Homo sapiens: one gene and its partner. The protein of the gene in region 2 interacts with the protein of the main gene of each other region in a pairwise test. Each region holds a gene or a part of one and is shown on either strand. Other genes may lie near its edges.

What was found.
Region 1: the proteins of H2AC16 (region 2) and BRPF1 interact in binary tests that used the Homo sapiens proteins (3 or more experiments, as listed by UniProt).

The regions. Positions count from the first base shown.
Region 1 is NC_000003.12:9,737,972-9,741,790, reverse strand, and holds part of BRPF1 (peregrin), read right to left. Parts: intron 2,793-3,819; coding exon 1,833-2,792; intron 1,013-1,832; coding exon 850-1,012; intron 484-849; coding exon 352-483; intron 1-351. UniProt on the Homo sapiens protein: Scaffold subunit of various histone acetyltransferase (HAT) complexes, such as the MOZ/MORF and HBO1 complexes, which have a histone H3 acetyltransferase activity.
Region 2 is NC_000006.12:27,863,568-27,866,334, forward strand, and holds H2AC16 (histone H2A type 1), read left to right. Parts: upstream 1-1,749; 5' UTR 1,750-1,787; coding exon 1,788-2,180; 3' UTR 2,181-2,231; downstream 2,232-2,767. UniProt on the Homo sapiens protein: Core component of nucleosome. Nucleosomes wrap and compact DNA into chromatin, limiting DNA accessibility to the cellular machineries which require DNA as a template.

The DNA of each region.
Region 1 (3,819 bases), on a different chromosome or scaffold from region 2:
ATTCTGTTCATACGCTCCTGTGACATTCTGCTTCCAGCAGAACTAAAAGCACACCGAGCACCAGGAGACCTGACTCCAGCGTCAGCCCTGCTGCTATCTGGCTGGGGTACACACGCTATTCCTTCTCCTGGGTCTTTTTTTTTTTTTTTTTTTTGAGACGGAGTCTCGCTCTGTCGCCCAGGCTGGAGTACAGTGGCACGATCTTGGCTCACTGCAAACCCCTCCTCCCAGGTTCACGCCATTCTCCTGCCTCAGCCTCCCGAGTAGCTGGGACTACAGGCGCCTGCCACCATGCCTGGCTAATTTTTTGTTTTTTCTTTTATAAAATAGGGCTGGCCCAGGAGCACTCACCGTCTCCCTTTTGAGTTTTTCCCGCTTGCGGATCAATTCCACGAGCAGCCGAGCTCGCTCCAAGTCATGCCGGAGCCGCTGCCAGGACTTGAGCTGTTCTTTAAGGGCCCAGTTCTTATCCTCAGAATCTCTCTGTAGAGGCAAAACGAAGATCAGAGGATGATTAGAAAGCCAGAGGAAAGGTCAACAGGGAGAAGAGAGCCCAGGAAACTCAGGTCAAGCCAAAAGAGGGAGCACAGTAATTTATTGGTAGTGCCTCAATCTGTGTGTCCCCAAGGCCTGGCAGAATAAATGCTTGGTATGTGTTTGTTGAATGAATACATAAACACATAGGAACAACATCTTTTCATTGAACATTCCATGCTGATCCTGGTTTGAGGGCTAGCTTAAAGGAGGAAAGAGTCTAAGCCCTCTGACACTGGAAACTACAGTTGCAAATTTTGGTTTTCGTCCCCCTGGCGCTAGTTCCCAGAGCCCACAGGGAACTGGACACAGTACCCCAACTTGGTCACAGTTCCTCTGAGATTGCAGGTGTGTCTGCAGGCGACGTAGCAATGGGACCCCATTCCGTGACTGCCGCTTCAGTGTCCAGTAGCTGTGCAGCCTCTGCATGAACTGGCTCTTCCTTTGGATGGTCAGGCGGTTGGTGATTTTACTAAGCCTGGGAGGCAGGAAACAAAGAGTAAAACTTGTTGGGCCCTGATTCTCTTAAGCAGAGCAAGGGTCTCTGGCCAGTGAAAGTTCCTGAATGGGGATGAAGGGAGAGGATCTCTTGTCCAAAAGGCCTGGGACTCTGGACTTAAGGCAAGGAAGAAAGAGTGGTGCCATCAGTGGTACCGTGGCAGACAGGAAACCAAGCTCCCAGCACTAAACCAGATCCCTAACCCTGTACACCAGCAATCAGGGACTTCTGCCCCTAAGACTGCTCTAGTCACTGCAGCCCAGAGTACTATTTGACCCTGGGAGCCCCACTGAGACTGAGCCTTTGAAGGTTTTAAAATGAAGTACAACTGTACAGCAGAAATATATAGTAAATCAAATAAACGGCACAAGAGAACTAAAAAAATCCCTGGCCATCACAGCCCAAATGAGCAGCAGTAACCACTTCACAACTTCTTGAGCTTCCCCTTCCCCGCTTTTCATTCTATTTGTTTCTTCATATTCAGACCATTTTTTCCATTGCTGCCAGTGGCAGTTCCATCCTCTTCCATCCCAACTTAACAAACCACACCATCAAAATGAAGGGCAGTTCCAAAACGCCTGTTAGCTATGCCAGATAAAAGCTGACATTTCTGGCTCTTAATGTGAAAGTCAGGTGACCTGCTAAAGACAACTATCTGTTTTGAAAATATGTTCTTTTTAACTTCTATGCAGCTCCTGGGAAGATAGCCCAGCCCTGCCATTCCACTCAGGAGGCTGCCAGCTCCTCTCCTGGAGGCTCCTTTCTCCCTCATCTGCCTGTCCACCGGCTCCCCACATACCTGTGTGGTGGGATGCAGGGCACTGACACCACAGGTGCTGCTGCCCGCTTCTCTGCCAGGATCTTCCGTGCCTTCTTCATTTTGATCCGGGACTTGGCCTTGGCCTTCTTGACTTTCTCTGAGCTCCAGCCCTTACCCTCATCCTCCTCCTCATCTTCATCCTCCTCACCCTCGCTGTGGGACAGGGCAGGCAGTCGGCGTGCTGAACCTGGAGGCGTGTGGATGTCGCAGTAGGCTGTCTTGCGGACACTGAAAGAGGTGCCGTTGGCGCCTGTCTCCCGCACAGGCTCCATCTTCATGTAAAGGCCAGCCTGCTGGGCGCATGTCACATGGAAAGCTGTGTAACAGTTGGCCTTGTGGCACTGGATGCAGGCCCCTGAGCCCCGTTGTTTGCAAATGTAGCAGGTGAGCTTCCAGCGAGCTGGTGGGATGTGCTCAATGCTGTCAATAGGCTCTAGGAAGACCGTGTTGGCGAAGCAGACCTCAGGGATCCACAAGGCACACACCACATGGGCCCAGCGCCCGTCATCTGTCTGCTTGAAGGCACCGCCCTTGTTGGGGCACAGGGCACAATCCACAGCACGAGAGGGTGACTGCAGGCAACGGCGGCACAGCCACTGGCCCTCAGGGATATAGGGGACACCGTAGCACTCCTGGTGCACGGCCAGGTTGCACATGTCACAGAAGAGGATGACATTGCTGTTCTGGCACTCACCATCATTGCAGATACAGCAAACAGCATCCTCGTCCACTAGCGCATTAGGGTCGCCTTTATTATGACTCTCAAAGTACGACTCCTTCTCCAGTCGGTCCATTAGGTACTCAAAGATCTCCTGCGGGATGGGACTTACACCCTCTGTCTTCCGACGCTCATTCATGATATCCAGCCAGATGTAGTCCTCCTCGTCCATGTCATACTCTACTTCCTCGTCCAGCTCCTCTGCAGACTTCTCGATGTACCTACGGTACAAACAGGGAACTCAGCATCACATGGTTGAGATTTCCCTCCCTTAAAGATGATGGGTCATTTGCCATTGAGCACTTACTCTGTGCCTATGCCCTTCAGATGTGTTGTCTCATTTCATCCTCACCTTAACTCCAGATATTATAGGTACTATCATCGTTTCTATTTTGCTGAAAAGGAAACCTAAGGCTTGGAAGGTTAATCACCTGGCCCCAGCTCACTTGTGAGAAAGTGGTGGAGCTGGGATGTGAACCCAGGTCTGCCACTGCAAAGCTCATGTCCTAGCTGCTATATGTGACACCATCTTCTTGGGGTTGCAGAGGCTCAGCCAGCCTCCTCTAAAAGGAGGAAGGTGGGGCAGCTAGTACCCCTTAGAGTGGTCCAGATGATGGTACGAAGAATCGGGGAAGAAGGAAGGTCATTGGATGTCATTGACAAATTACATATAAGTTGTTTTAGCACTGGTGGGCAGGGCCTCGACTAGAGCTGCCATGGATCTTCTCTCAGCTAGTGTCAGCATCAGCTCAAGGCTCCGTCAAACTCTAGGTGCTATGTTTGTTCACTGGATAGCCTTGGGAGATAACAATTATAATAGCTAAGGTTTACTGAGGATTTCCTATGAGCCAGGCATTGTGCTTAACTATTACATTTATTCTTACCACAGCCATAGAGTTAGTGTTCTTGTTGTCCTCATTTTGCAGATAAGAAAACTTAAGCTTTGAGAAGTTAATCAAAACATAGATAGGTCACATAACAAGGGAGTGGCAGAGGCAGAGGCATTCAACCTCCAGCCCAGTGCTCTTAATGTCCAACCTGTATCACTTACTATGCCAACAGGCCTGGAATTGAGGGCTGCTCTCGGTGCTTGTCACACAGAGAAGGTGCTCCTTGCCTGGCATGCTATAGGTGGCCTAGACTCTGGCACTGTAAACTACAGGGTACAAAGGAAGGGATGGGGCTTTGGCTTCTAAGCAAACCAGATTTAAATCCTGCCTCTGCCATTTTATGACTTTTAGGACATCA
Region 2 (2,767 bases):
TGCCACCTGGATTACATGGTAGTCACTGAGTATCCTACCAGGTGGCCTGAAAATTGTGGTGTAACCTGCAAAACGTCCAGTGATATTTCAGTAGAGGTTGATAGGACTTTTACTTTAAATACTTGGTTTTCTAGACAATAACTCAACAGGGGATTCTCGGTGTTGAAATTGAGCCTGGATAAGTGAAATTCGCACAATAAAACTCCCGTTTTGTGTATTTGACGTTTGTAACATAAAATACTTAGTAGCAGATAATATTGGAAATATCATAAGGCCACAATGTATCTTTTGCATAAATTAAGAAGCATTTATGAAAGGCTTTAGGTTAAAGCTAACTGAACATTTCAAAACTAGGGATAAACGAGCGTCAGTTCTATTTAGGAAGTGTGAATATCTCTGAAAAGAGTCCTTAGGGTGTGGGTCAGGAAGAACCTAGTGGAGTGTGAGTCAGGAAGAACCTAGTGGGGTTCCAAGTGGACGAACCAGCAAGGAGCTCACTTGGAGCTGGTGTGCTTGGTTACGGCTTTGGTGCTCTCGGACACAGCATGCGTGACAGGCGAACAGCCGTCTGGATCTCCCTGGAGGTGATGGTCGAACGCTTGTTGTAACGCGCCAGGCGGGAAGCCTCGCCCGCAATACGCTCGAAGATGGCATAACGAAGGTGTTCAAGATCCCCATTGCTTTGGACGAGATGCCGGTGTTGGTGGACCTGCTTCAGCACCTTGTACAAGTACACGGAGCAGCTCTCCTTGCGGCTGCGCTTTCGCTTCTTGCCTTAGTAATAGTCTTCTTGGAACCCTTTTTCGGGGCTGTGGCCGACTTGGTGGGGTCAGGCGTGTTGTAGTTTAACTGCAGAAAGGGTACAAGGAATAGGAAAAAGCGGCCGGGCGCGGCGGCGCACGCCTGTAATTCCAGTACTTTGGGAGGCGGAGGCGGGCGGATCACTTGAGGTCAGGAGTTCGAGAGCAGCCTGAACAACATGGCGAAACCATGACTCTTCAAACAAATGTAAAAAATTAGCTGGGCGCGTGATGCACTCCTGTAACCCCAGCTACTGGGGAGGCTCAGGGAGGAGGATCGCTTCGGCCAGGAAGGCGGAGGTTGCGGTGAGCCACGATCGCGCCACTGCTCTCCAACCTGGGCGGCAAAGCCAGACCCTGTCTCAAGGGAAAAAAAAAAAAAAAAAAAAAAAAAAAGTCGCCGGGCGCTGTGGCTCACGCCTTTAATCCCAGCATTTTGGGAGGTTGAGGCAGGTGGCTCACCTGAGCTCAGGGGTTTGAGACCAGGATGACCAATATGGTGAAACCCTGTCTCTACTAAAAAATACAAAAATTAGCCGGGCTATGGTGGCTGACGCTTGTAATCTCAGCTACTCAGGAGGCCGAGGCAGGAGAATCACTTGAACCCAGGAGCGGACGTTGCAGCGACCGGAGATCGTACCACCGCACTCCAGCCCGGGCGAGAGGGAGACCCTGTCTTAAAAAAACAAAAAAAGAAGAAGAAGAAAAAGCTGTGTGTTGTAACGTCCTGTTCACGAATTCTTATGCAAATGAGGTGATTAATAAAATAGTGTGTAGGACTGGTGGCGATTCTAGATGACGTCATATACACGTTTGTCCAATCCAAAGAAGCATGTTTCATAACAGCGATTCCATTGGTTGAAATAAAACTGTAATTTGAGCCAATGGCACAGCTTTATTTTCGCGCCCAGTATTGACTATAAGTAGTGGAGCTCTGGTGAACTTCTCTCGGCTGTTCTCAGTTCCTCCATTTATCGTTTCTTCGTCATGTCGGGACGCGGCAAGCAGGGAGGCAAAGCTCGCGCCAAAGCCAAGACCCGCTCTTCTCGTGCCGGTCTCCAGTTCCCCGTGGGCCGAGTGCACCGACTGCTCCGCAAGGGCAACTATGCTGAGCGGGTCGGGGCCGGCGCGCCGGTGTACCTGGCGGCGGTGCTGGAGTACCTGACTGCCGAGATCCTGGAGCTGGCGGGCAACGCCGCCCGCGACAACAAGAAGACCCGCATTATCCCGCGCCACTTGCAGCTGGCCATCCGCAACGACGAGGAGCTCAACAAGCTGCTGGGCAAAGTAACCATCGCTCAGGGTGGTGTCCTGCCCAACATCCAGGCTGTGCTACTGCCCAAGAAGACCGAGAGTCACCACAAGGCCAAAGGCAAATAATGTCTCCATAGAATCACTTTCCAATACAACGGCTCTTTTCAGAGCCACCTACTATTTCTGCGGGAGAGCTGGGCCACTGGTTAAACATTTGGAACGTTTGTTATGAAAAGATAAAGCATTTTTCATCTAGAGCTTAGGAATGACTTTTAGGAAAAACCTTACAGGATTCAGGTGACATGTTTAAGTCAGAATGTGAACTAGTTATTTAATGTAGGGCTTACAAGAATGTTCGCTGTGTTTATTCATCTCGTGTTATATGAACTAGAACCAATAAAAAAAAATCCAGAGCCAGGCTCAGTGGCTCACGCCTGTAATCCCAGCACTTTTGGAAGCTGAGGCGGGAAGATCGCTGGAGCTCATGAATTCGAGATCTGCCTGGGCATCATAGCGGATACAAAAATTAGCCGACCGGGGTGGTGCACGCCTTTAGTCCTAGCACTTCACAGAGGCTGAAGTGGGACGATCCCTTGAGCCGGGGAGGCTGAGGCTGTAGTGAGCCGAGACCACGCCACTGCACGCCAGCCTGGGTGACAGCGAGAACCTGACTTGAGGAAAAAAAAATAATCCAGTACAGAATGACACGGTCA